5 separate regions of the Homo sapiens genome follow, and regions 2, 3, 4 and 5 are each linked to region 1. The links come from fine-mapping of genetic effects on gene expression. A gene starts in region 1. Each other region holds a variant in brackets. All regions are shown on one strand. Distances are between the middles of the regions. Region 1 holds the start of BST1 (bone marrow stromal cell antigen 1). Region 2 overlaps BST1 (bone marrow stromal cell antigen 1). Region 3 has its middle 35 kb from the start of BST1. Region 4 overlaps BST1 (bone marrow stromal cell antigen 1). Region 5 has its middle 11 kb from the start of CD38.

Region 1 (5,911 bases):
TCAAAGTTTCATCTGAGACAAGGCAAATGCCTTCTGCCTATGAGCCTGTAATATCAAAAGCAAGCTAGTTACTTTCTAGATAATGATTACCTCCAGGGTAAACAAGAGGTTTACAACAAATAAAATGTCATAATGTCCCAAACAGAATAATGTCCCAAACAGAAACATCAAGAAATAGCATATAGGTATTGTATTAGTCTGTTCTTGCATTGCTATAGATACCTGAAACTGCTCATTTATAAGAAAAAGAGGTTGAATTGGCTCACAGTTCTGCAGGCTGTAGGAAGCATAGTGGCTTCTGCATCTGGAGAGGCTTCAGGAAGTTTCCAAATGTGGTGGAAGGCAAAGGGGGAGCAATGGGTCTTACACGGTGGCAGCAGGGAGCAAGAGAGAGGGAGGAGGTGCTACACACTTCTTTTTTTTTTTTTTTTGAGACAGAGTCTCACTCTGTCACCAGGCTGGAGTGCAGTGGTGAGATCTCAGCTCACTGCAACCTCCGCCTCCCAGGTTCAAGCGATTCTTCTGCCTCAGCCTCCCGAAGAGCTGGGACTACAGGTGCGTGCCACCACGCCCAGCTAATTTTTGTATTTTTAGTATAGATGGGGTTTCACCATGTTGGCCAGGATGGTCTCGATCCGTGATTCCCAACACACCCCCCACACCAGCCTCCCAAACTGCTGTGATTACAGGTGTGAGCCACGGCGCCCTGCCAGTGCTACACAGTTTAAAACAACCAGATCTCACTTACTATCATGAGAATAGCAACAAGGGGATGGTGCTAGACTATTCTTGAGAAACCCACACCCATGATAAAATCACCTCCCACCAGGCCCCACCTCCAACGTTGGGGATTACAATTTCACATTAGATTTGGTGGGACGAGCCATGCCAGGGATGCCCCAAAATTACTAAACTAAAGGGAAAAGTCAGGCTGGGAACTGCTCAGGGCAAACTTGCCTCCCATTCTATTCAAAGTCATTCAGCTGCTCACTGAGATATATGCATATTCTGATGGCCTTCTTTGGAAAGGCTTATCAGAAACTCAAAAGAAGGCAACCATTTGTCTCTCACCTACCTGAGACCTGGAAGCCCCCTCCGTGCTTCGAGTTGTCCCCGCCTCTCTGGACAGAACCAATGTACTTCTTACATATATTGATTGATATCTCATGTCTCCCTAAAATGTATAAAACCAAGCTGTGCCCTGACCACCTTGGGTACATGTCGTCAGGACTTCCTGAGGTTGTGTCATGGACACGTGTCCTCAACCTTGCTAAAATAAACTTTCTAAATTAATTGAGACCTGTCTCAAAATTTGCGGGTTCACACATGTTATTTAGAAATATGGAAGTAAACACAGGAACAAAACTTGAAAGAATTAAAAATGCTTTCCTCTGGAAAGTGGATTTAACTTAAGGAGGAACTGAACAGGAGAATGCGGGTTTTGGTTACAGAAAAAAAGAGATTCAAATAAAACAGTAGAGAACACCTGTTCTGTCCTCCCTTGTGTTTATCAAGTGCTTGCCAGGCACTCAAAGTTCATTGCTGTCATTATTGTAAGAATTGAGGACTTGGGCCTCCACGTGGTATTCTATTAATACTGGCTCTTTTTTTTTTTTTTTTTGAGACGGAGTCTCACTCTGTTGCCCAGACTGGAGTGCAGTGGCCCGATCTCGGCTCACTGCGAGCTCTGCCTCCTGGGTTCACGCCGTTTTCCCGCCTCAGCCTCCCGAGTAGCTGGGACAACAGGCGCCCGCCACCGCGCCTGGCTAATCTTTTGTATTTTTAGTAGAGACGGGGTTTCACCGTGTTAGCAAGGATGGTCTCGATCTCTTGACCTCGTGATCCACCCGCCTCGGCCTCCCAAAGTGCTGGGATTACAGGTGTGAGCCACCGCGCCCGGCCAATCCTGGCTCTCTTAAACTGAACATCTCCAGGATTTTGCATCTATCAGGAAGGGATATTGTGACCTCTGACAAGTTACAGTCGGCGGTAGGTATCCATGGAGAATTGGTTCCAGGAACCTCCTGGATACCAAAATCCACAGATGCTCAAGGCCCTTATATTAAATGGTGTAGTATACAGTATTTGCACATCCTCTTCTATAATTCACGTCATCTCCAGATTCCTTGTAATATCAAGTACTATGTAATTGTTACATAAGTAGTTGTTACATTGGATTATTTAGGGAATGATGACAAGGAAAAAAAAGTCCGTACATGTTCCGTACAGATGCAAGCATTCTTTTTTTCCTCAAATGTTTCTCATCCGTGGTTAGCTGAATTTGGATGATGAATCCGCAAATCTGGAGGGCCGAACATGCTTAACTTCCCTGAGTTTATCCATTGCTAAAGCGAGAGAAATTACAAACTTAGCTAGGAAGGGTGTTGCGGAAAGTAATTAATATTATACTTGCAAAGTGCTTGGCACGTTGTTGTGGTTATTATTTCCTGAAAACAAACAAACACCACTTATTGGTTGGTGTGAAAGAGGGCATCTGTCAAAGTTGTCGTCCTTTGGAGCCAGAAAAGTATTTCTTCTGATGATGACTGACCTCTCCTCACCTCTCCTTCAACCTTGCGGCTTCTTTGGGGCTCCCTCCCCGTGGACAGCGGTCAAGATTAGCCTGGGCCACAGTGCACTGGTCCTGTCCTGGGTGATGTTCCAAGCTCACTCTTTTTTAATTTTATTTATTTATTAATTTTTTTTTTAGACAGAGTCTCACTCTGTCGCCCAGGGCTGGAGTGCAGTGGTGCAATCACTGCTCGCTGCAGCCTCGATCCCCTGGGGTCAAGCCTCCTCACATCTCACCTCGCAGGTAGCTGAGACTACAGATGCGCACCACCAGGACCAGCTAAGTTTTGTATTTTTTTGTAGAGAGGAGGTTTCTCACCTGTATGTTACTCAGGTTTGTCTCGAACTCCTATACTCAAGCGATCCGCCCGTCTAGGCCTCTCAAAGTGCTGGGATTACAGGCATGAGCCGCCGCGCCCCGCCCCACGCTCAGTCTTGAAATTGTCTGGAACGGGAAACGGCAAACAGCGAGATATCCGAGCGAGAGTCCCGCCCTGCATCAGTTTGCGGAACCGCCTTGGTAGAAGGAGAGAAGGGGAGTGGAGGAAGCACGGGACTGGAGGGACCAAAGTTCCCCGATGGCGGCCCAGGGGTGCGCGGCATCGCGGCTGCTCCAGCTGCTGCTGCAGCTTCTGCTTCTACTGTTGCTGCTGGCGGCGGGCGGGGCGCGCGCGCGGTGGCGCGGGGAGGGCACCAGCGCACACTTGCGGGACATCTTCCTGGGCCGCTGCGCCGAGTACCGCGCACTGCTGAGTCCCGAGCAGCGGTGAGGCAGTCGGCCGGGTGGAAGGGGAGCCGGAAAGAGGCAACGGTGGGGAGGGCCTGGGGAGGGGAAAACTGGCGCTAAAGTTCGGGGTGAGGGGGCAATGAGAGAGGCCTTGAGGGGAGAGGTGAGTGTGGAGACAGCGATGGTCCTGAACGATGGGGGCGAGTGAGGAGGGGGCTGTGAAGTGTGTCTGCAGGTGAGGGGTGCGCTGTGCGGGGTCTAGAGATGAGTGTGTGTGTGTGCGCGCACACACACACTGTAGAGGTGAGGGGTGTGTGCGTGTGTTCTAGAGGTGAGGGGGGTGTGTGTGTGCGCGCGCTCTAGAGGTGGGAGGTGTGTGTGTGCTCTAGAGGTGGATGTGTGTGTGTGTGCTCTAGAGGTGGGGGTGTGTGTGTGTGTGTGTGCTCTAGAGGTGAGGGGTGTGTGTGTGTGTTCTAAAGGTGAGATGTGTGTGTGTGTTCTAGAGGTAAGGGGTGTGTGTGTTCCAGAGGTGAGGTGTCTGTATGTGTGTTCTAGAGGTGAGGGGTGTGTGCATGTGTGTTCTAGAGGTGAAGGGGGTGTGTGTGCGTGCGCTCTAGAGGTGAGGGGTGTGTGTATTCTAGAGGTGAGGGGTGTGTGTGTTCTAGAAGTGAGGGGTGTGTGTGTTCTGGAGGTGAGATGTGTGTGTGTGTGTTCTAGAGGTGAGGGGTGCGTGCATGTGTTCTAGAGGTGTGTGTGTATCTGTGTTCTAGAGGTGAGGGGTGTGTGTGTGTAGTCTAGAGGTGACAGGTGTGTGTGTGTGGTCTATAGGTGAGGGATGTGTGTGTGGTCTAGAGGTGAGGGATGTGTGTGTGGTCTAGAGGTGAGGGGTGTGTGTGTTCTAGAGGTGAGGGGGTGTATGTGTATTCTAGAGCTGAGGAGAGTGTGTGTTCTAGAGATGAGGTGTGTATGTGTGTTCTAGAGGTGAGGGGTGTGTGTGTGTTCTGGAGTTGAGGGGTGTGTGTTCTAGAGGTGAGATGTGTGTGTTCTAGAGATGATGGGTGTGTGTGTTCTAGAAGTGAGAGGTGTGTGTGTTCTAGAGGTAAGGGATGTGTGTGTGTGTGTGTTCTAGAGGTGAGTTGTGTGTGTGTTCTAGAGGTGAGATGTGTGTGTGTTTGTTCTAGAGGTGAGGGGTGTGTGTGTGTAGTCTAGAGGTGACAGGTGTGTGTGTGTGGTCTATAGGTGAGGGATGTGTGTGTGGTCTAGAGGTGAGGGATGTGTGTGTGGTCTAGAGGTGAGAGGTGTGTGTGAGTGTGAAGGAGGGTGGAGAGGTATCCCTCTAGAAGTGAGGGTGGGGTAGAGGTGAACTGGGTAACAGCCCATTGCCACCCAGCAGATGTTTAGTCTGAATACTCAGAACCCAGAATGTGATCTCAGGTTGGAATTCCTTGAGTCCAGTCCTTCCAGAATTCAAATTTCAGATCCCCTAAATCTGGAGGATTTCTGAAGTTTGGGTCTTTCTTGCCAGTGCTGCATTTCTTACTGATTTTTGTTCCTTCTGTGGCCCCCCTTTTCTTATGTTTGTGATGTCTTTCTTGTGCTGATCATTTTTATTGTCGCACATTTCAGGCAAATAAGAAACAGCAGAGAACCACCTGTGTTACACACCACCCAGTATGAGAAACAAAGTTACAAATGCTATGGGAAATATTTTTTGAAAACTAGCATGGACCTCAAGAGGGGCTTGCACTGGAGGGTGCACCTGCTTTGCCAGAGGTGGAAGCCTTTTGCAGCATTGGGCCTCCCTCCTAACACTACACATCCTGCTGGCTGGCCTGGCCTCACCTGGTCCCCGAGCTCCACACTGGAACTGGACTATGAGACTGGCCCCACCGTTAGGTCTAAATGAAGAGGCACCTGCTGTATAGTTGACTGAATTTGTCACCTCCTGCTCGGTGCCATTTCTGCTTGTCTCCGTGAGCCTGGGGCAAGGCTGTATTCCTTAGCTCTGAGAAATCTGTGCAGTGCCTTCAGAGAGACAATTCCAGTGTCAGATTTCTGAATCTGTCACCTAAGCCATGACAATTCGTTGTCTTTTTTGTAAGCCTACTTCTGCAGTTACTATATGAAAAATCTCTTGTAAAGCTCTTAGACAAATGGGCATACTTCACAACACATTATGATGTGCATGTGTGTGTTCTTCCCAACTTGTACTTTTGCACAGGAACAAGAACTGCACAGCCATCTGGGAAGCCTTTAAAGTGGCGCTGGACAAGGATCCCTGCTCCGTGCTGCCCTCAGACTATGACCTTTTTATTAACTTGTCCAGGCACTCTATTCCCAGAGATAAGGTAACACCACAACCATCTTGGGTAAAACTGTGTTCTCTGTCTCTACAGAAATGGATGGTGCATGGGCCAGGTTGACATTAGCTGTCCCCTGCATCCTGCAATGTCACAGAAACATCAGGCAGCACACATAATGTGTGTGCTGAGCTCTCTGTGGGAAGCTAGCTTTGTTTCTGTATTAGTCCGTTGTCACATTGCTATAAAGAAATGCCTGAGACTGGGTAATTTACAAAGAAAAGAGGTTTAACTGGTTCACAGTTCCACAGGC
Region 2 (5,911 bases), 20 kb after region 1:
CAAGGTCAGGAGTTCGAGACCAGCCTGGCCAACATGGTGAAACCCCGTCTCTACTAAAAATACAAAAATTAGCCGCGTGTGGTGACTGGTGCCTGTAATCCCAGCTACTCGGGAGGCTGAGGCAGGAGAATCACTTGAGGCAGAGGTTCCAGTGAGCCAGGGTGACAAGAGCCTGGGTGACAAGAGCAAGACTCTGTCTCAAAAAAAAAAAAAAAAATCAGTTCTTAATCCAAAACAGCTCAATAGCCAAGTGCAGTGGCATGCACCTGTAGTTCCAGCTATTTGGGAGGCTGAGGTGGGAGGATTGCTTGAGCCCAGGAGTTCAAGGGAACAGTGAGCTATGATGGTGCCACTGCACTCTAGCCTGGGTGACAGAGCAGGACCTGGTCTCAAAATAAAACAAAGTAAACCCCTAGCCATCGCCCCCTCAAAAACAAACAAACAAACAACAACAACAAAAAGCTCAATGATGGAGAAAATTGTAGCTAAAATTGTTGCATTCACAACCACTTTGCTTTGTTTTTATGTCATTGGGCTGAGTTATAATAGCCGGGCCAGAGCCCAGGTCTCCTTGCCCCTCACGGCTGCCCTGGGTCTGGGCTTATGTGCTTCCTCTCTATTGTGTCCCTACCTCAGTCAGCCTCAGGGCTCTTCTCTTCCAGGCCTGACTCAGTAAAGAAATGAGGAAGCTCCCATTTCTTTATTGCCCATAGGCTGTTTCTGTGTTAGTGTCAGGAGCAGAGAGGATATAATGAAAGGTATAAATGGGAAAGTGATGAGGGTTAACATAACAAATCCAACTCCAACCCAGATGTGAGAAACTCCTGCCCCTCACAATTCAGGTGGCATTGCCTTCTGCCCCACATCAGTAGAAAGTTCTCCCTGAGGTTCTTGCCCATTTTGGAGGGGGCTTATCTTTTCATGGCCTCCCTTACCTTCTGGTTGGTTTCTGCCAGTACTGTGTTGAATCAGACTCAGTGAAAACTCCATACCTGTTTTTGGGCATAAACAATGACAGATAACTACTTTTATTAAAAATATGTGCATCACATATACACCATGGAATACTATGCAGCCATAAAAAGGATGAGTTCATGTCCTTTGTAGGGACATGGATGAAGCTAGACACAATCATTCTGAGCAAACTATCCCAAGGACAGAAAACCAAACACCGCATGTTCTCACTCACAGGTGGGAACTGAACAATGAGAACCCTTGGACACAGGGTAGGGAATATCACACACTGGGGCCTGTCGTGGGGTAGGGGGAGGGGGGAGGGATAGCATTAGGAGACATACCTAATGTAAATGACGAGTTGACAGGTGTGGCACACCAACATGGCATGTGTATACATATGTAACAAACCTGCACGTTGTGCACATGTACCCTAGAACTTGAAGTATAATAATAAAAAATAAAAATATGTGCATCAAGTAGACACTACTGAAAGGTAGCTGAGTCAAGGACAGAAGACATGGCATGCCATAGAGACAACAATATCACGTTCCTGTTCTTCCATAGTCCCCTGCAGTGATCGTGCCACAGAGATCCTGTCTAGGCTTGCCTCCTACCTAACTCCCCGTGTGCCACCAAGACCTGGCTCCTGTCTTCATTGCTGCTTCCCTTCCCCTCCTGGTGGCTTGGAACTTCACATCTTCTCCCTCTGTTGTGCACAGCAAGTTAGCTTTCCTCTCTGATGCCTGAGCATTGGCCATCACCCATGTGGTTCAAGTCCAACCTTCTGCCCAAAGTACTTATCAGGTCATACGAGTTGTACGTGCATACAGAAATGGTTAGAAGCTCAGGCCCTAGAGTCAGCCTGCATAGTTCAAGTTCAGCCCTTCAACTTGCTACTGTGAGAACTTGGGTGGGTTATTGTGGTCAGCTTTCTCAATTGTAAATTGGAGAAGATAAAGCACCTATTCCATTTGGTTGTTATGAGGATTACATGACATGATCCTTACAAAAGATATAATCAAATGTCTTGGTACGTAGGAAGTGCTTGATAAATGCTGGCTAATATTTTCATTTGTTTTAGTTTTTCTAGATACAAGGCCTCACTCTGTTATCCAGGCTGGAGTGCAGTGGTGCGATCATAGCTCACTGCAGCCTTGAACTCCTGGGCCTCCTGCCTCAGCCTCCTGGGTAGCTGAGACTATAGGCATGAGCGTCTGCACCCAGATAATTTTTAGATTTTTTTTTTTTTTTTTTTTTGTAGAGCCAAGGTCTCGCTATGTTGCCCAGGCTGGTCTCAAACTCCTGGTCTCAAGCAGTCCTCCTGCCTCAACCTCCCAAAGTGCTGGGATTACAGGTGTAAGCCACCGTGCTGGGCCACTAATATTTTTAGAGGAAATAGTTTGTGTATTATTTGAGGTCAGAGACTACTGTATCTCCAGGACTTTTCAGGCAAGCCATAAATGGTTGATGGATGAAAGTTATTTAAATAATCCCTTAAATATTATTTTCTTTCTGTAGACCAGTGAAGCTCTTACAGTGCGTGGACCACAGCACCCATCCTGACTGTGCCTTAAAGTCGTAAGTAAATGTCTTAACCCAAATCGTTCTTTCCAAAGATAACCATCTCCTTTCAGAAGTTTTCAGTTCACAAACATGAACATATTATCAGAGGCAGATGTAAGTGTGCTCATTGGATTCTGGTTTGGCCTTATTTTTATTTATATGTATCTGTCTTAGTTTTTGTACAAAAAGCAATCACGCTACACATAACGTCCTGCTGTGAGCTTTCTTCACTTGCTGGTGTAATGGGGCCACCCTTTAAAGTTTGTTCATACTTCTGTCCTAGTCTGTTAGTGGCTGTAGAGCAATCTGTAGGATGGTCACACTACCTTTTTTTTTGGGAGGCGGGGGGCAGAGTCTCGCTCTATCGCCCAGGCTGGAGTGCAGTGGCGCAATCTCGGCTCACTGCAAGCTCCGCCTTCCGAGTTCACACCATTCTCCTGCCTCAGCCTCCCGAGTAGCTGGGACTACAGGGGCCTGCCACCACGCCCAGCTAATTTTTTTGTATTTTTTTGTAGAGACGGGGTTTCACCGTGTTAGCCAGGATGGTCTCGATCTCCTGGCCTTGTGATCCGCCTTCCTTGGCCTCCTAAAGTGCTGGGATTACAGGCGTAAGCCACCACGCCTGGCCCACACCACCTTTTATGTAATCCTTTCTGAGTCATGGGCTGGCTTGGTTGTATGTTGTTATAGTAGTTGTTTTGCTATTATAAACAATGCTGAAATATAATCCTTGATTATATACTTTAAGCTGTTGTGCAAGTATTTGTGTAGGATAGATTCCCAGAAATTGAGTTGCTGAGTCAAAGAATGTGTGTGTATTTTAAATTTTGATATGTTCTGAGAAATTTTGATATGTTTCAAAAAGGCTGTGCCAGCATACACTTCCACCACCAGTATATGCTAGGAGTGCCC[A/G]TTCTCCACTCCTCCACGCTATGTATTTTCTATATCCATATCTGTATCTGTGCCTGTACCTATAGCCTATCATTTTAGCCCATCTTAGGGGTAAAACATAGTGCATTATTGTCATTTCAGTTTGTGTGGGCAGGAAGATTTCTGATCCCTCCACTTGAATTCTTTTCCGAAATCTATTTACTAACATCATACTTATCCTGACAATCCAACTCAAGTGTTCTTTGCTCTGTGAGGCTTTCCTCATTCTCCACGTTGATTGAGGAACTCCCTTCTCTTTGCTTCCAAGGACTTTGTACACAACCTGATGACAGTGCTTTACTCTTCCTAGCCCTGCTATCGTTCATTCTGTACCATCTGCCTGCCTCACTCTGCCTTCCTCTTTGTGTTTCTCTTAGTATTTTTCATTACAGTTGCACATAGTAGGTGCACCATCTATGCCTGTAGGATCCGTTCTTCCATCTACAAGGGAAGAGAACTAATCAGAGTGCACAGTAACTATATGCTAGGCATTTGCTGTGTGCACTACATAAAATAGTATGTTTATCTGAATAACCAGTACATTAAAGAGAGTCAGGCTGGGTGTGGTGGCTCATGCCTGTAATCCCAGCACTTTGGGAGGCTGAGGCGGGTGGATCACCTGAGGTCAGGAGTTCAAGACCTGCCTGACCAACATGGTGAAACCCCATCTCTACTAAATACAAAACATTAGCCAGGAGTGGTGGTGCGTGCCTGTAACCCCAGCTACTTGGGAGGCTGAGGCAGGAGAATCACTTGAACCCAGTAGGCAGAGGTTGCAGTGAGCCGAGATTGCACCAGTGCACTCCAGCCCAGTCAACAAGTGTGAAACTCCATCTCAAAAAATAAAATAAAATAAGAGAGAGAGAGAGAGAGAGAAAGAGAGCACATGCACTGGTGAGCTGGCTTGTCATCCCCATATAGTTCTTATTCTCTTTTTCATTTAGTAATAGAACCCTTGAATTTTAGATGGTTCATGGCTATCAAGAATAATGATCCTAGCCTCTCTACCCACTGTGGCCAAGTGACATGTGCAATTTCTGGGTTTAGCACTTGAAAGGAAGGGACTTACATTCCCTTTCTCCTTTTATGCTGGCTGGTATATGGGCCCACAAGATGTGGAGGTGAGCGTCTTCAACTGGGCGTGGCAGAGTAACACAGCAAAAGGAAGCCGGGTGCCTCTGTACCATGGCATCACTCTACCAGCCCTGAAGAGTTACTGAGAGAGAAATAAACATCTGTCTTCTCTAAGCCACTGTCATTTAGACAGAAGCCAGATTTTATTTGATCCAATGTGGGTAGGTTCATATTCTCCCTTCAGAAGCAAAGAAACTCTGGCTCAGAGAAGTTTATGAAGGACTCACCCAAGACCACCCAGCTAGTGCAGGCAGAACCAGGATCTGAAGGAGTCTGAGAACTGTCAAAATTCACTCTGGCAGATGTCTTGCTCTTTGGGCTGGAAATTAGGACAACAGACCCATCATCTCCAGCATGTATTCTAGGAGCCAACATCCCAGGGTTCGGTGATGGATTTAAGTCCTCTCCTCATTCTTTAATGCTATTCGTTCCCTGTGAATTTGGCATGCATCGTTTCTGAGTCCTTTCACAGGAGGTAAAGGATAGCCTGTGAACCTGGGTCTTTCCTTTCCTCACCTGAAAATGAAGTCCACCCTCATGTCGCTGCTGCTCAAAAACCTTCAAAGTTACCTACTACCAAGTTCAGACTTCTAGTCCCATCTTCCAGGTTCATCATACTCTTTCCAGACACGTCACCCACAGCTTCTCATCTGGAATGTTTATTTCAAGGCTAGTTTTGATCCACTTCCCATAAGATATCATATGCTTTCCTGCTCATCAGCCTGTGGAAACACCGTTTTGGCAGTAGTAAGCACTCTGTTCTTACTGAGTTAGTCAGATGATCTGAAATTGTCAGTTTTCTTATCTACAAAGCCTCCATGAGGTTACCCTGATCCCTGATCTCAATATTTAAAATCATAGCCTCCATCTCACAACTGTGGCTCTTCAAAACCCTCATGTGACTGCATTTTTTTTCTTTTTTATAGTGTTTATCTTCTGACTGACCTACTTGTGAAGTGCGGTCTTTTTTTTTTTTTTTTTTTTTTTTTGAGACGAGGTCTCTCTCCTCTCTCTGTCACCCAGGCTGTAGTGCAGTGGCACAATCACGGCTCACTGCAGGTTTGACCTCCTGGGCTCACGTGATCCTCCCACCTCAGCCTCCCAAACAGCTGGGGATACAGGCACTTACCACTACGCCAGCTAACTTTTAAAGTTTTTTTTTTTTTTTTTTTGTAGAGATGAGGTCTCACTATATTGCCCATGCTGGCAAATTCATTCTTTAGCGCCTCCCACCTGTCAGAACATGAGCTCCAGGAGGTCAGGGACTTTGACCTGTTTTTTTCACTGATGATGGTATTCTAAGGACCTAAAACAGAACTTGCAACTC
Region 3 (5,911 bases), 35 kb after region 1:
TGCAGAGGAATGAAATCCATGAAAACCTGGCATGGTAGAATGTTCATTTGGTGTAGACACTGGTGTGTATTGTAAAAGCGGTATTAGCTTCTTACAGAAGGTGTGCTCAGCTGGGCTCCTCTAACCAAGTTGCTTGGTGCTCTACCCAGACGTGCTCTCTACTCTCTCCCTCCTCAGGGTCTTTGAACATGTTGGTCTCTCTGTGTTGATTTTCCTTCCTGCCCTGTCTCCCATCTGGCAGACTCTAAGACATACCTTAAGCATCACCTCCTCCCTGGATCCTTCTGTTGACCTCTCTCCCTGCAAAAAAGCAAAGAATTCCCTAACAGGGCCCATCTTCATGGTGTCAGCATTGTTTGGGTCCTTGCCTAACTTCACCCTGGGACTGTGGCTTCTTTGCAGACTCACTCATCTTTGCAGCCCTAGCCTAGCCCTGCTTGGATGAAGTAGACCTTCCACGTGTGAATGAACTAAGTTTAATAGAGGAAAACAGAGGGTGGGGGATTCTTTAGCTTTCTTTTGTTGGAGGAGGCCAGGGAGGGTACAAGGGAAGCTTAATAACAAGGTGTGGCATGCTTTTCTGTATTTATGGCATACTTTCATAAAACACTTGAAGTGTGTGATATTGCTAGGGTGTGTGAGGGGAGCCGTGAGGGAAGATGACAAGCAGCATAAGACTTTTGGGTACTTAGAGAAAGAGAAAAGGACCCAACCAACCAACTTCCAATTCATAATTCATGGTTTGTCTCAGGACCGTCTGGCTCCTTAGGCCAATCCCATGGGAGCCCCAGCCAAGGGGCGTCTCTTAGACCAAGCTTGGAAAACACAGTGTCTGCTGCCTTCATGTTGCCTGGGTTACCAGGCGACTTAGCCACTCACAGCACAGTGACCTGCGACTCAATTAGAGAAATGCCATTTTGAGTTCCATAAGAAAAATAAGGCTTTATTTTTAAAAACTAAACATAACTTCACTTTTTTCCCGAATATAAGAGTAATAATGGCTCTTTACTTGAAAAAAATCTACACAATACAGAAAAATTAGGAAGAAGGCAAATCTCATCTGTCATACTGCACGCAGAGTAGCAGACATTTTTCTATGTGTTTTTATGCACATATTTATATTTATAGACCCAAGAGGCTATGTGGGACATTAGGAGTGCGACCCAGAGCAGAACCATACAACCGCCGGTTCTAGCCTTTGTACAAGGTAAATCATGGGTTTCAAACATATCATTGCCTCCTGACTGATCTCTCTGCTTCTGCTTGGTTTCTCCTTCAGCCTAACTTCCACAATGCTGCCAGAGCAATGTCCTACGCTAGGGTCCTGAGTGCATCGTCCTCTTGCTCAAAATCAGCAATGGTTTCCTACCCTTGGCAAGACAAATTTCAAATTTTAAAATCTGCTCTTCAAGAAGCCGGGCGCAGTGGCTCCTGCCTATAATTCCAGCACTTTGTGAGGCCAAGGTGGGCAGATCACTTGAGGTCAGGAGCCCTGGACAACATGGTGAAACCCTGTATGTACTAAAAATACAAAAATTAGCTGGGCGTGGTGGCACGTGCCTGTAATCCCAGGTACTCTGAAGGTTGAGGCAGGAGAACTGCTTGAACCAAGGACACAGAGGTTGCAGTGAGCCTAGATTGCTCCACTGCACTCCAGCCTGGGTGATAGAGTGAGACTCTGTCTCCAAAAAAAAAAAAAAATCTGCGATTCAAGATCTTTCCATTTGCCCCTAAACTGCCTTACTAGGTCTGTGTCCCAGGAGACCCCACTGCACTCTCCATGAACCTTCTCTCAGTTCCGTATTCTCAACATAAGCCTTTGGATCTGGTACCTTTGCTCACCTCCTCCTCGAAGCCTTACTTAGTTCCAGATCCATTTGTTTTTATGTCTCTCTCTCTTGAGGACAGCAACTTTACCTCTTTGTCTTTGTGTCTGTCATAATGCTTTACCCTGACCAGCCATGACCTAGTCAGCATTTGATCAGATTGGGTGAGAACCTTGGGTTTGGGGAATCAAGACAAAGGAAATGGGGAGGCAGCCTAACATTGTGGCCAAGAGCATGGACTCTGGCACCTAACAGGTTGGCCCACATCCTACCTTCAGCACTTGCTCGCTGTGTAGCCTTGGGCAACTCACTTACCTTACCTGAGCTGCATCACCGTGTGTGTAAGTAGGGATTATAAGTACTCATAATTCAATGAGCGAATGTGCATAAAGAACCCAGAACAGTGCCAGGAGTATAGTAGATCAGCCCTGTATAAGTGTTATTTGCTAGTGTTATTGTTACTACTACTAGAGTTGTTTGATAGCTGTCTAAACACCATCTGCAATACAGCACTCTCTGCAGATCAGAAGTTACTGTGCACTGGGCACTGTGTGAAGTATTTTCATAAATGGCCCCTTTCAATCCTCACTCGACCCCATAGGATCAATTCTCTTATTATCCTATTTTACAGATGAGAAAACATAGACATAGAAAGCTTTTCTTACTTGGCCAAGGTCACCTCTCTTGGCCTCGGTTCCTCCATGGTCTGGGCAGCAAGGGGGCAGCAGGGAGCCCTGGCAAAAGCAGCTAAGAAAACCAGCCTCGTGTGTCTTCAACAAACAGGTCCCAGCACCAGCTCCATGCCTGGCACACTTAATGGGTACTTAATGCTCTTCTACCAAGTGAATGAACAATGCTAAGCATTTGACCAAAAGAGAAATGCACATGGAAGACCCCTGAGCACAAGGACTGGGTGGGCACATGAAGAACTGAGTTCTCTTTCCTCTCCTGTCGTAGGTACCAGGTACCTTACACTTGGCTGTATTCCCTCTAGCACGATAGACTTGGTAACAAGGTACTTTCTGAACCTGAACAGGAAACTGTGGGAACCATGATGGGGAAGATACTGACTGTCAGAGAGTCCAAAGATGTAAATGCCTTCCACTCCCACAGCAAGGAAGCCG[A/G]AATCTCCAGAGGCTCTGGCAAGAGTTGAGTCAATTGCATGCCTGCCTAGTCCAGCTCCGTCCACATGAATGCTCTCCACAAGCTTCAGAGGAAACAGGATAAAATGGACTCCCAAATATTTAGGGTGGTGAAAATACTCTGCATGATACTAGAATTGTGGATACAGGTGATTATATATGTGTCCAAACCTACAGAAGGTACAACACCAAGGGTGAACCCTCAGGTAAACTACAGAGGCTGGGTGACCATGATGTTTCAATGTCGGTTCATTAGTTGTGACAAATGCACCACTCCACCACTCTGGTGGGGATGCTGCCAGTGGGGGAGGCTATGTATGTGTGGGGACAGAGCGTATGTGGGAAGCTCTGTACTTTCTGCTCAAATTTGCTGTGAACCTAAAACTGCTCTAAACATTAAAGCCTATTCAAAAAAATGAAAGCCTAATTTGAAAAGGAATTTCAGACACTTGGGAAAAAGAATAATGACGTCTATAAGTCATTCTTTGATAAGAGAGTCGGTCAGTCTGGTGTGTCTAGTAAGGTAGCAGAGGGACATTCACAAAGACCGGAGAATACAAAGATGTTAAACAGGGTGAGGAGTCTATGATGTTGGTCAGTATAAAAGGAGAAAAAGATCCTAAAAACATTCCTAAATATTGTTTGATTTAAAAATATATGTTGGAAGGCAAGAGAGTTTGATAAAAAAATAAAAATAAAAATAAAAAACCTTGATGGGAAGTGGGAATGACCACACGTTAGCCAGCTGATAGCTTACCTGTTTGAAGTTCAGCTTCCACACGATTGTTACAGACGGAACTGTGTTCCCTCAAATTCATAGTTCGTTATGGCCACCCTGGTAAGCTAACACAACAATGAAAATTTCCAAAGTAAAGACTAGAAGCAGGCATGTGCCAAGTGAACACTAGCTTTTTTTATTTCTCCTGCTGTGAAAATTGAGGTTTGCCAAAGGTGCCAAATGAACATGGCTGATTGAGAAGTAATCCCAGTTCCACTAACCTGAGAGACAGCCCAGGCAAGCGGACCTAGCTCCTAATGCTCATTTCCATTTCAGTCTTTCTGAAGTTTCCCAGGGTGAGAAAGTGGAACTCAGGACAATGAATCATCATTGGAGACTCTGCAGTTGCTAGAACTTAATTCACAGGCATTTGAAACCCAGAACTCAGCCTTACTCTTCTCAGGAGACTTTTGGCACCAAAGAGAAGGGCAAATTGAAAGCCCATGCTGGAGAACAGGGCACAGCTATTGCTGAGACTGGGAGCTTGTTTTTAAAGACCTGGCAAGGGTTTCAAACACCCACATGCATAACCAATGAAGCAGGTTGGAAAATCTGAACTATGCTAATTTCACCATAATTACTCATTACTTGAAGTCTTATGTATTTGTGTTTTCTTGGTAGTCTCTTTAAAACATGTTTCAATATGAAACGTATATGTATTAAATCACTCCGCTTAGAATTTTAGGAATATAGTTTTGTTTTTCCCCCTAAAAGATGTAGAATGCAGCAGGTTCTCTAAAGCACATGTATTCTTTGTTACGTGATTTGGTTCTTTGGAACTTCTTTTATCATGTAGCTATTAAAGGGTAGCTGTCAGAATTACCCAAACTCTTCACTGAAATGACTTACTTATTTGAGAAAAATGCATGTTAAGAAGCCAAACCGTGTGTGTGTGTGTGTGTGTGTGTGTGTGTGTGTGTGTGTATTTCTCCCCTGCACAAAAGTAGAAGGGTTTTCATTTGACTTGTGCCAGCTGCACCTTCATGACTTTGCTATAGGACATGTGACACAGTAACTCTAAGATGGTGCTTGTAAAATTTTAAAATAGTTAACATACAGTGACAAGCTCTCAGGGGAACACATTAAACTCGATTAAATTTTGTAGGGTAAAAAGATGTGTACAGAAATATAATCAGAGTGAAGTCATTGTTCACCATTGCTGCTAGTAATAAAATTTGGTGGTAGGAGGGGGAAGGAGAAAGGGAGGGAGGGAAGTCGGTGAGAGAGAGAAAAGGAGAGGGAGACATTGACAGAGAGAGAGACAGACAGACAGAGAAACAGAGAGAGACAGAGAAAGAGAGGGAAGAAGGGAGAGAGAGAGAGATAAGGATAGAGAGAGACAGGGAGAGAGTGTATCTCCTGATCCTCACTGGCTGATAACTAAATTAGTTGGGGGCAGGGGGGACTGAATCTCGTTCTGTCACCGAGGCTGGAGTGCAGTGGCACCGTCTCGTCTCACTGCAACGTCTGCCTCCCAGGTTCAAGTGATTCTCATGCCTCGGCCTCCCTAGCAGCTGGGACTACAGGCACACGCCACTATGCCTGGCTAATTTTTTGTATTCTTTTTGCTAGAGACGGGGTTTTGCCATGTTGACCAGGCTGGTCTCAAACTTCTAACCACAGTGATCTGCCCGCCTTGGGTTCCCAAAGTGCTAGGATTATAGGCATGAGCCACCATGTCGGGCCTAAATTAGTAGTTATTATCTACTTTCATTTGTGGGATGAAGATGAAACAGAGTCCTTTGGGATTGTGCACTGGGGGAAACCTAACATAGTCTAGTATCGGGAGAGGAGGCTTTCCAGAGAAAGTCTTCCTTAAGTTGAACCTGAAAAAACGAGAGCTATTAGCCAGATGAGAGGTGAAGGTGTGAGGGGGTGGATTGGAAATATTTTCAGGTAGGGAGACTAATCTATACAAAGGTTTATGTTCTCAACTACTGAGTTTGTCTTCAGCATTTGCACCTTATTTAACAAATTTATTAATTTGTTAAATTATAACAAATATTTGACAGCAGAGCTGAGGATATTAAAATAAAATGTAATTTTATTTCTTATATGTTGGTGAAGAAGGAGCAGCAACAGAGGCTGGAGCATTATTTACAAGCCAAACTATCCGTCTGGAGATTCCCAGTGCAGCAACTGGGACGGGGACTACTGAATCCCTC
Region 4 (5,911 bases), 29 kb after region 1:
TTTCAAGTGGCTGAGACTACAGGAGCAAGCCAGCACTACTGGAAAATTTTCTTTTCCCTTCCTTCCTTCCTTTTTTTTTTTTTTTTTTTGATGGAGTCTTGCTCTGTCACCCAGGCTAGAGTTCAGTGGCTTGATCTTGGCTCATCACTGCAGCCTCCACCTCCTGGGCTCAAGTGATTCTCCTGCCTCAGCCTGCCAAGTAGCTGGGCCCACAGGTGTGAGCTACCACGCCTGGCTGATTTTTGTATTTTTAGTGGAGATGAAGTTTTACCATGTTGGCCAGGCTGGTCTCAAACTCCTGACTTCAGGTGATCCTTCTGCCTTGGCCTCCCAAAGTGCTGGGATTATAGGTGTGAACCACCATGCTCAGCCAAGTAACTGATTTTAGGCTTGGGATTTTTAGTAGGAAGTTATAAGAGAATTTTACTAAGTTTTGAACCAGTATTGGAATTTGTAAAAGAATTAAGATTAAATTTTATACATTTATTAGGTTTACTACAATCAAGTAATTGAGAAAGTTTTGCTAATTTAAAGTCATTTAAAATATTTTTTAAAAAAGATGTAATATTTTAATATTTAAGTTGAAAATAACCTGAAGCCTTGCCCAGTGGCTCATGCCTGTAACCGTAGCACTTTGGGAGTTCAGTGCGGGAGGATCACTTGAACCCAGGCATTCAAGACCAGCCTAGGCAACATGGCGAGACCCCGCCTCTACAAGCAAACAAACAAAAAATTGGCTGGGTATGTTGGTGTGCACCTATGGTCCCAGCTACTCAGGAGTCTGAGGCAGGAGGATTCTCTAAACCCGGGAAGGTCAATGCTTCAACGAGCTGTAGTCATGCCACTGCACTCCAGCCTGGGTGACAGAATGAGACCCTGTCTCAAAGAATAATAATAATAATAATAACTTAACCTGAAATAACTTGAGTTTAAAACATCACAGGAATTAAGTAAGTGTGACAAATCCTTAAGAGTTATTGTCAGAGTTCACCAGGTTTTTAAATAGAACAATGTGATTTATAAATTAAATAAAAGGGCATGGGAAAATTAGGCTTTTGAGTATATAAATGTAATAACAAGAATCAATTTTAAAAATCAAAGTAACTGCAAATAGTGCAGTTACCCCCTCAAGTATAGTCTCACATTGACAAGAAAAGGTTTTTAAGCTACAAAGTGAGAAACCAATGCACAGAACATGAACCGAGACATGTAAACCAGAAGAAAGCAAAACAGCATGTTTCTATTTGTGCATGATAATGGATGTAAGTGATAGAAATAGGTCTGAGAAAGTAAACTCCAAGCACCTAACTGTGGGTTCCTTCTAGGCAAAGGAATAGAAACTGGAAAAAGATGAAGGGAGGCTGTCATTATTAGTGTATCTAATTATGTGTTATTTTATTTTTTAAAAAAGTAAAGAAAAATGTAACCTTATGTTAATTAGTTAATTATTTGAAAGCAAAAGTAATTTTAAATTTTGAGTGAATCGAGTCTGGGACATTAACTGCATCACAGGTGCAATTGTAGAAAATGTCCGGTAGGTGGAGCACTAATACAAACCTGTGGGTCAGATTTCTTTAGCAAAAAAGAGAGGACCAGCATTCAAATGGAGTCAGGAACTTTTAAGGACAGGGCCACTAGTCCAGAGCCATGGGATATATTTCCAAGCCAACATTAGATGGTTTCATAATTTTAAAATTCATCTTTTAGTTGGTTTAAAAGAATTCAGTAATTTCTGTTTTTACAAACCCAGTGGCCAGATACTGTTTACTATGAATAGGGTCCATATTTTGGGCAGGCCCTCTGTTGATGTCTTCATGTCAGGACAGGTTTTTCTTCACCACTTAAACTCTGATCATGTAATAGCCATCAGTAGGAAACCTGGCTAACACTGTGTTCCATCCGTACAATAAGAATTCATCCACAAGGAAGAATGAGTTAACTCCCTGTGTACCAATATGGAAGCATGTTCAAAATATGATGTTAGGTGAAGAACGCACGTTGCAGATTCCATTTGTGCTTAGATAAAAGGATATCTAAAGACATCTAAGGATAATTTGCAGGGCAGCAGCAGGTCCTGTTGTCTAGAGAAGCTTTTTGCTCAGGAAAGAATGTCTTGAGATGGTATTTCAATGACGTGTGTGCTCAGGATTGCAGAAATAGGAATTAGTTATATTGAGCAGGTTCAGCATGCATGTGTTCATTGCATTCCTGGAAAGAGAACTCAAACTATCAAAGTTGGTTTTCTATGGAAAGTGCAAATGGGGAGACTAAGAGACTTTTACTTTCCACTTTATAACTTCCTATATACTATGTACATTTCTCCACAGTGTGCACAATTTGCTTTTTTTTTTTTTATACTGGTAGCAGTAGAATTTATTCAAATGTGCCTTAATATAGGCACTGGGGCTTGCCTATGGTGCTCTCGATATATAAGGCCCGGACATTCTGCCAGTTTTTCTGCCAGTTTTTCTTGAGCAATGTCACCAAGAAGTTGACAGGCAGGTGACTGTTACACACAAGCTCATTGTCTGTCCTTTTCACGTGGCCAACAGCCACAGCCAGACATAACACCTTCTTCATGTGGAAATTGATTACGGACTTCATCTCATCCACTTTGGCCACCATGTTTTCCTTGTGTGTGAGCAGGGAGGGGCAATTTCCTGCCTTATTTAGGACTGGGCCGAGGATTCGTGGGATCTGCTTGATCAGAGACTCTGAGGCCAAAAATGCATCATACTCTTGGCCAGTTTCTTGACCAGTTTCTTATTCTTGTTGAGTTTTTTCAGTACCTCGTTTTCCATGTGGTGGAAATCCACAGGCTTGGCCTTGTCACGGTGCTGCTGGTTACCCAGGACACACATGGAGAACTTGGGGCAGGGAGTGGACTTAAGCCTGACGGTGCCCGAGAAGCGCTTGTCCTTCTGGGGAGTCATAGTTCTTGAAGCTGATCTGCAACTCCACCATCTCCAGAAACTTGGGGTGCTTGCGCTGGTTTCGGTGCAGGACTTCGCGCACCGCCTCCTACGGGGTGTCACGGGAGACTTTGCTGCTCATGGCTTCTCGCTCCGCGCTAACCAGAAAAGAGACTAATACTGCACATATATTTTTGAGCGTAGATTCCATACACCAATACTGACACTTTCTCTATTTCCTTGTTAATTTGCAGGGCAGCAGCCGCTACTCAAAGAAAAGCCCCAAGTCTTTATACAGAACAAAGGGCGGGTCTTATCATTCCCCTCTTTCTGGTGCTGGCTTCC[A/C]GGACTCAACTGTAACTGGAAACTGTGTTGCTCTAACCCTCCTCCAGCCCTGCAGCCTCCCCTTGCAGTCATCATTCGTGTTCTGTGTATACCAAATGATTCTGTTATCTAAAGAAGCTTTTTGCTGGGAAAACGATGTCCTGAAAATGGTATTTCAATGAGGCATATGTTCAGGATTTCAGAAACAAGAAGTTAGTTCTATTTAGCAGGTTAAAAAATGCTGCATTAGAATTAAAGCAAGTTATTTTCTTATTTGTATAATGACACAAAGCATTGGGAGTCAGACTGCTTGTATATTATCAAACATTTTAAGAGAATTCTAATAAAGCTGTATTTTACATCATCTATATTTTCCTATATCTCCAGCAGCACGGACACTGCATGCTTGTTGATTGCTTAAGACATATGTATACTATATAAATGTATGCATATATGGTCTGCAAAGTTTTCATTTTTCATTTATTTGGTATAAAGATGTTCAGTTAATGGTTCCTTTTTGTTTTGAGAGACAGAGTTTCGCTCCTTTGCCCAGGCTGGAGTGAGGTGGGGAGATCTCAGCTCACTGCAACCTCTGCTTCCAGGATTCAAGCGATTCTCCTGCCTCAGCCTCCCAAGTAGCTGGGATTGCAGGTGCCTGCCACCATGTCCAGCTAATTTTTGTATTTTTAGTAGAGATGGGGTTTCACCATGTTGGCCAGGCTAGTCTCGAATTCCTGACCTCAGGTGATCCACCCACCTCAGCCTCCCAAAGTGCTAGGATTACAGGCGTGAGCCACCACATCCAGCCATAATAGTTACTTATAATGAGGGAAAAACCCAAAATATCCAGTAATATTTACATATTTACTGAAACTGTTTGGAACTTGTATTAGTTTGTTCTTGCATTGCTATAAAGAACTGCCCGAGACTGGGTAATTTACAAAAATAAAAATAAAAAAGAGGTTTAATTGACTCACAGTTCTGTGTCCAGAATTGTGACAAAATTGTGACAACCTCTGGGTTTTTGGTCTTGCTGACTTCAAGAATGAAGCCATGGACTTTTGCAGTGAGTGTTACAGCTCTTAAAGATGGTGTGTTCAGAGTTTGTTCCTTCAGATGTGTCTGGAGTTTCTTCCTTCTGGTGGGTTCGTGGTCTCGCTGACTTCAAGAATGAAGCTGCGGACCTTCGCGGCAAGTGTTACAGCTATTAAAGGTAGTGCGGACCCAAAGAGTGAGCAGCAGCAAGATTTATTGTGAAGAGCGAAAAAACAAAGCTTCCACAATGTGGAAGGGGACCCAAGCTGGTTGCCACTGCTGGCTCGGTGGCCAGCTTTTATTCCCTTATTTGGTCCCACCCACATCCTGCTGATTGGTCCATTTTACAGAGCGCTGATTGGTCCATTTTACAGAGTGCTGATTGATGCATTTACAATCCTTTAGCTAGACACAGAGTGCTGATTGGTGTGTTTACTATCCTTTAGCCGGACACAGAGTGCTGACTGGTGTGTTTTTACAGAGTGCTGACTGGTGCATTTACAATCCTTTAGCTAGACACAGAGTGCTGATTGGTGCGTTTACAATCCTTTAGCTGGACACAGAGTGCTGACTGGTGTGTTTTTACAGAGTGCTGACTGGTGCATTTACAATCCTTTAGCTAGACACAGAGTGCTGATCGGTGCATTTACAATCCTTTAGCTAGACAGAAAAGCTCTCCAAGTCCCCTCTCGACCTAGGAAGTCCAGCTGGCTTCACCTCTCTGTTCCACAGGCTTACAGGAAGCATGGCTGGGGAGGCCTCAGGAAACTTACGATCATCATGGAAGGCAAAAGGGAAGCAGTCATGTCTTACATGGCCAGAGAAGGAGGAAGGGAGTGAAGGGGGAGGTGCTACATGCTTTCAAACCACCAGATCTCGTGAGAACTCTGTCATGAGACAGCACTAGGTGATGGTGCTAAACCATCCGAAACCACCTCCGTGATCCAATCACCTCCCACCAGACCCCACCTTCAACACTGGGGATCACAATTCAATATGAAATTTAGGTGGGGATACAGAGCCAAACCATATCAGAACTATTTACATGGGTTTTAGAATATTTGTAGAATGGAGTATCATTCAACAAGTAAAAGCCATGTTTACCAATTCACATGTCCTTCAGATGGTGAAGGAATAAACTAACTGGTAAATCTACACCATGGAATACTACTCAGCAATAAAGGTAACTACCTTGATATATGCAGCAATATGGATGAAACCCAAATGTGAGAGCTGCCGCACCAAAAGGCCACCAACTGTATGATTCTATTTATATGACATCCTCGAGAAGGCAGAACTATAGTAGCGGAGAGCAGACCAGTGATTGTGGGGGTTGAGAATGATCAGGACTAGAAGGAGGCGCTGACTGCAAAGTGACACTGAGAAAAATTTTGGGAGCGATGGAGCTGCTCTGTGTCTTGATTGTGGTGGTGATTGCATGAATCCAAGTGTTCGTCAACACTCATGGCCCTGTACATGAAAAAGAGTAAATTTTATTTTATGTAAACCAAAAAGAAATGTTTTCAAAGAACATTTAATCACATAGGAAAATGTGTAAGAGATAAAATATAAAACTTAATTATATGATGAAAATGTCTAAAGTATGATACAAATTTAATATATTAAAATATAATATATAT
Region 5 (5,911 bases), 65 kb after region 1:
GAGCACTCCAGTCCCTGGCCACAGTGATTGGCTCATAAATGGGCTCAATGACTGCTCATGGCAAGAAATATCTTAAGTGACTAGAATTAGGTGAGGTGTGTGTGTGTGTGTGTGTGTGTTTTGCAAAGTGTAGAAAAGCATGAATTCCAGAGCCCTATTGCATAGGTTTGAATCCCAGTTCCCCACTTCCACCACCAACCAGCTAGGTAAACTTGGAAAAGTCACTCTTCCTCTCTGGGCTTCAGGCTTCAGTCTCTTTCCTGTAAGATGGGGTCAGTACTACTTACCTCATGGGGTTCTTATGGGGATTGAACAAGTTAACCTTTGTGGAGCATGGCACGGTGTTTGTCTCAACATTTTCACTTGGATACATAACTGGCATCTTAAACTTGACATACCTCCAATGAATTCTCCTTTCATAGTCTTTCTCCACTTGGTAAACGACAACTCCATCCTTCCAGTTGCTCAAGCCAAAAATCTTGGAGTTGTCTCTGACTACTCTCATTGTCTCTTTACTCTATCGGCAAATCCGGTCTGTTGTACCTTTAAAATATATTCAGAATTTAATTGCATCTGCTGATGCCAACCCAGTGCAAGGCACCATCATCTCTTGTCAGGATTATGGCACCATGGCTTCCAAAATGGCCTCGTTGCTTCTGTCCCTGCCCCACTTCCGTTTCTGCTCAACAAACAGCCAGAGTGAGCCTGACAAAACACGTCGGGACATGTCACTCTTGTGCACCAGCGCCTGCCTATCTCCGGGTCCCAAACACACAATTAAATCTCTATCCTCATCTCCCACATATTTCCTCCTTGTTCTTCCTGTGCCATGCACCTGTTACTTGACCTCTGCTGTTCTCTGAACACACCAGGCTTGCTTCTGCCTTAGGGCCTTTGCAATTGCTCTTCTCTGTCTGGAGCCCTGTTCCCCCAGATTTCACCTCACCTTCTTCAGATTCTTACCCAAGTGCCACCTTCTGAGTGAGACCTTCCTTGGTCCTTTACCCAAAATTGCAACCTTCCCCCAAGTCTTTATCCTGTTCCCTGCTGAGTTTGTTTCTTAGCCCTCATCATCACCTCGCATGTGCTATGGTTTACTTATCTTGTCTATTATATGTCGATTCCCCTTTAAAACATAAGCTTCTGGCAACCGAATTTGTTTAACAGCTATAAACCCAGTACTAAAATAGTTCATGGTGCTCAGTAAATATTTAATGCACAAATGGCTGAATAAGGGGATGGAAGTCAAAAGAATTGCATTACAGTGTGATACTCATCAACATACAGTTGTGCAGTGCCCTCTAAGCACCAGGGACTTGCTAGCCACTGAGGACGTACCTGAGACAAAGACTGTTTGGCATCCTTCTATAATCTAGTTGGGGATGGAGGTAGGGTGGCAAAACTGTCCCAAAAAATCAGGAAGTATAGGATGCATATGGTTATCCATGATACGAGCTTGTAATCCAGACATGAAGGCCTGTAAAAGATGTCTCAGATTTGGAGTGTCTAAACTGTCACCTGAAGGTTAAGGAAAAACAACTGGATGAGGGAGGTGGGGCAGTGGGAGAGCTGAAAAGTCACCAGATCTGTTAAGCTGCGGTCAGACCTAAGGGAGGATGTGGCTGAGAAGCTGACTTTTGATGAACTCCTGTCTTTACTCTGATGAAATAAACAAGGAAGCCTAGAATGAAGGGCAGGCAGCCCAAGTGAATTAAAAGCATTTTGAGGCATCTTGCCAAGTTCTATTTACTCTTATTTCATTAAAAATACAGAAAGAGTAGTAAATACAAGATTCAGCCTTGCTCGGTTTCAGGATGTGGGAGGAGAAATCATGCAGCTGTCTTACATGAATCTGCTAGAAAGAAGCAGGTCACAGGTGTGATCTGTGTGGCATCAACGAGCATGCTTTTCTGTTGTTTTTGACATTCAGCATTTATCTATTCTTCTTTTCGTGATGGTATCCTGACTTGAGGAGGCACAAAACATATTGAGGAGACAAAGACCTCCCTAAAAAAAAAAAAAAAAAAAAAAGACCTCCCTAAAAAAAAAACAGGTTAACCCTGAGCTTCCTGGTGACACTCAAAGCCTTCTGACCAGAAGAAGTGTGAAGAAAAGGGGAGAACAATCCCTGGACCAACCAATGCCCACACGTTGCTGCATCCCACGCCCAGTGCCCATGTCCCACTGCCGTTGCCAGCATGCCCAAGAGAACAGCTGAAGGGGATGCTATAGTAGATAAGGCCAAGGTGAAGCATGAACCACATAGTAGATCTGCAAGTTGTCTGCTAACCCTGCCCCTCCAAAGCCAGAGCCGAAGCCTAAAAAGACCCCTGCAAAGAAGGGAGAGAAAGTACCCAAAGGGAAAAGTTGACGCTGGCAAGGAGCGGATAACCCTGCAGAAAATGGATATGCCCGAACAGACGTGGCACACAGAAAGCCAAAGGTGCTGGGGGTGCCGAGGGAAATGTGTGCATTTTTGAAAATTGTGTACTTCTGGTGGCTGCACAGTTTGAAATACTACTTTTTATCAATTTTTTTTTTTTTGAGATGGAGTCTTGCTCTGTCACCAGGCTGGAGTGTAATGGTGTGATCTCAGCTCACTGCAAACTCCACCTCTCGGGTTCAAGACATTCTCCTGCCTCAGCCTCCTGAGTAGCTGGGACTACAGGCACGTGCCGCCACACCCAGCTAATTTTTTGTATTTTTAGTAGAGACAGGGTTTCACCATGTTGGCCAGGATGGTCTCGATCTCCTGACCTTGTGATCTGCCCGT[T/C]TCGGCTTTCCAAAGTGCTGGGGTTACAAGCGTGAGCCACCGTGCCCGGCCCTACTTTTTTTTTTTTAATCAAGTTTTATAAAAATCAGAATTTTGTTTTACTCTTTTTAAAGCTATGTTGTTAGCACACAGAACACTTTATTGTTTTTTTGGGGAAGGGGCATACGTCACTAATAGAATGTCTCTGAAGCTGGATTGATGTGGGGAAAACACTTTTCCCTTCTAGTTTTTAATTTTTTTTTTATTTTTAGTAGAGATGGAATTTCACCATGTTGGCCAGGCTGGTCTCGAACTCCTGACCTCAAGTGATCTGCCCATCTCGGCCTCCTCAAGTGTTGAGATTACAGGCATAAGCCACCATGCTCAGCCCCCTTGTAGTTTTGAAAGACTTCCTCTTGGCTCCCAGGAGGAGGGATTCCCTGACTTTGACCACATGGTCACCTTGGCACAAAAGCTTTGTGGTATGGAAAAACAAAATCATTCATTTTTAAATCCTCTTCTTCCTTTCTACCTTTCAGCACAGACTTAACTCCCTTAAATCCAGACACCTGTTGGGACCTGACCCCCAATAATTGGTTACCAGTGTGTTAGGCAATCTGGACTTTCCAGTGATGCCACTGAGATGCTGCCCCTCCAAAGAGCAGCGGTTCCGATTCTAGACTGTGGATCTTCAGATAACCCTGACTTTCAGGAAGTGAAATAAAAATGGCAGAATTTAAAGTTGTTAAACAATGCGCTAAATGTGAAATGTCAACCCTCACTCTAAACTTTCCCTGTTTAGAGCATCAGTCGAAAGCTTCATGGGTTTTAGAGTGGCTTTCTGATTTTTGGTAGTCCATGGAAGAAGAGAGTTTGAAAGTTGTTGTATACTGTTAATGATTGTCTGCCCATGTCCTGCTGAAATACCATGAGTGTTGATGGACAGTATCTTTTTTTTTTTTTTTTTTTTTTTTGAGACGGAGTCTCACTCTGTCACCCAGGCCGGACTGCGGACTGCAGTGGCGCAATCTCGGCTCACTGCAAGCTCCGCTTCCCGGGTTCACGCCATTCTCCTGCCTCAGCCTCCCGAGTAGCTGGGACTACAGGCGCCCGCCACCGCGCCCGGCTAATTTTTTTTTGTATTTTTAGTAGAGATGGGGTTTCACCTCGTTAGCCAGGATGGTCTCGATCTCCTGACCTCATGATCCACCCGCCTCAGCCTCCCAAAGTGCTGGGATTACAGGCGTGAGCCACCGCGCCCGGCCGATGGACAGTATCTTTAATAAAACTGAATACAGTTTGGCTTGGGGAAAAAAAAGCCCTCCTGACAGCTGCCACAGACCCGTACCCAAGAGCATGTTTCCAGAAGTTCCCACTATGGGGCATAAATCCCCTTTGAGAACAGACTGAGTCTGTCAACTGTAAGCCTTTATTTTCACATTTACAATATGAAAATCATCACATGTTTACATGATGGCAGTGTTGTGAGGGTACAGTTCACAAAGGACCTGACACTCAACGATGTTAGCAATTATTGTTGAAAGAAAAAAAAAAACAAGAATTATGTATGAATTCCAGCATCTCCCTTTTCTCCCTTCAACATTGTGCCTTATTTCTCAGCAAATGAGCCAACAGATGCTTGTTGATAGATGGTTTTAGCCGGTGAATCCGATGAAGACCTTGGATCTGTTGGTGAATGTCCAGCCTGTTGTCACTGAGTTTGAACTGTGGGAGAAGGAGCTGCTTATTCTGCAGGCGTTGCTTGAGTGCCAACCACATACTGGGCATGGTTCTGGTGCTAGGGACAGAGAACTTGGTATTTCTGGTGAACAAAGGCAGGCAACGGCCCTGTTGGCATGGAGCTGCCCTTCTAGTGGGGGAACTGAAGAGAGGAGGCTCCCCCATTTCTAGAAGCTTTCCCAGGGAAATTGGCTGCTTTTTGCTTGACATGTACACTCACATGTTCTTGCAGCAAGCCTGAGCCACAGGGAGTTACATGAGATGCTCAGGCTCAAAGAGCTAGTGGGGGTGGAGAGCTGGTATTGGAGTCTGGGCTCTGGTGGTTTGGGAGAGGACATATGGCCTGGAAGGAGCCACGTATACACAGTGAAGCAGAAAGAACAGAATTTCTCTCTCTCTATATATATATGTATATATATGTTTACAATATCAAATAATATTTTTTAATCATTTTTAAAGCTAACAAAGATTAGGGGAAAAAAAGGCAAGATACTACCAAAATGTTAGTGGTAGTTGGGCTACGAGTGGGAGCATTTTTCTTCTTTGCTCTATTTCCACTTTTAAAATGTAGTTTTTTGTTTTTTTTTTAAAGACAATCTCCCTCTGTCGCCCAGGCTGGAGTGCAGTGGCACGATTTCAGTTCACTGCAACTTCCACCACCTAGGCTCAAGTGATTCTCCTGCTTCAGCCTCCTGAGTAGCTGTGATTACAGGTGTGTGCCACTGCGCCTGGCTAACTTTTGTATTTTCAGTAGAGACGTGGTTTCACCATGTTGGCCAGGCTGGTCTCGAACTCTTGACCTCAAGTGATCCGCCCACCTTGGCCTCCCAAAGTGCTGGGATTACAGGCGTAAGCCACCGGGCATGGCTAAAATGTGATTTTTTTTTTTACTTGAATGATTTTAAAATGACTAATGAAGTTGACCAAAGAAAGAAGAACATGTGTGCTTTTTATTCTAGAACCAATGTTTCTACTAACCAGCTGTGTGGCCTGGAGATAGTCATGCCTCTTGTCCCCAGGTGTCCCCAAATCTGTTGTTCTCCCCGCCGTTCTGTTTATATGCTGTTCCCTCCTTTTTGCAAACCTTGCTTGCCCTTCAACAGCCTGCTGTGGTGTCACTGTCTTTTCAAAGGCTTCCTAAAAACTACTCCGGGCCAGGTGTGGTGGCTCACGTCTGTAATCCCAGAACTTTGGGAGGCCGAGGCGGGTGGATCACCTGAGGTCAGGAGTTCATGACCAGCCTGGGCAACATGGTGAAGCCCCGTCTCTACTAAAAATACAAAAATTAGCTGGGCACAGTGGCACGTGCCTCCCAGCTACTCGGGAGGCTGAGGCAGGAGAATCGCTTGAGCCCGGGAGGCAGAGGTTGCGGTGAGCCGAGATTGCATCATTGCACTCCAGCCTGGGCAACAGAGTGAG

The links.
Region 2: its variant is fine-mapped to the expression of BST1 in whole blood (TOPMed, PIP above 0.99).
Region 3: its variant is fine-mapped to the expression of BST1 in whole blood (TOPMed, PIP above 0.99).
Region 4: its variant is fine-mapped to the expression of BST1 in whole blood (TOPMed, PIP 0.98).
Region 5: its variant is fine-mapped to the expression of BST1 in whole blood (INTERVAL, PIP 0.96).

What each region holds. Positions count from the first base shown.
Region 1 is chr4:15,699,996-15,705,906 of GRCh38, forward strand. BST1 (bone marrow stromal cell antigen 1) reads left to right here and starts at 3,070. Exons shown (of 9, transcript NM_004334.3): 1 at 3,070-3,337; 2 at 5,520-5,646. The coding sequence starts at 3,150. RefSeq lists a silencer at 3,009-3,088.
Region 2 is chr4:15,720,400-15,726,310 of GRCh38, forward strand. It overlaps BST1 (bone marrow stromal cell antigen 1), which reads left to right. Exons shown (of 9, transcript NM_004334.3): 8 at 2,476-2,535. Among named protein-coding and RNA genes, the nearest start is that of BST1, 20 kb to the left of the region's middle. The variant A/G (reference allele first, on the strand shown) is at 3,433.
Region 3 is chr4:15,734,925-15,740,835 of GRCh38, forward strand. It overlaps a transcript of BST1 not described here. Among named protein-coding and RNA genes, the nearest start is that of BST1, 35 kb to the left of the region's middle. The variant A/G (reference allele first, on the strand shown) is at 2,951.
Region 4 is chr4:15,728,574-15,734,484 of GRCh38, forward strand. BST1 (bone marrow stromal cell antigen 1) reads left to right here. Exons shown (of 9, transcript NM_004334.3): 9 at 3,167-4,214. The coding sequence ends at 3,272. It also overlaps the pseudogene RPL10AP7. Among named protein-coding and RNA genes, the nearest start is that of BST1, 28 kb to the left of the region's middle. The variant A/C (reference allele first, on the strand shown) is at 3,258.
Region 5 is chr4:15,764,779-15,770,689 of GRCh38, forward strand. It overlaps a transcript of BST1 not described here. Among named protein-coding and RNA genes, the nearest start is that of CD38, 11 kb to the right of the region's middle. The variant T/C (reference allele first, on the strand shown) is at 2,774.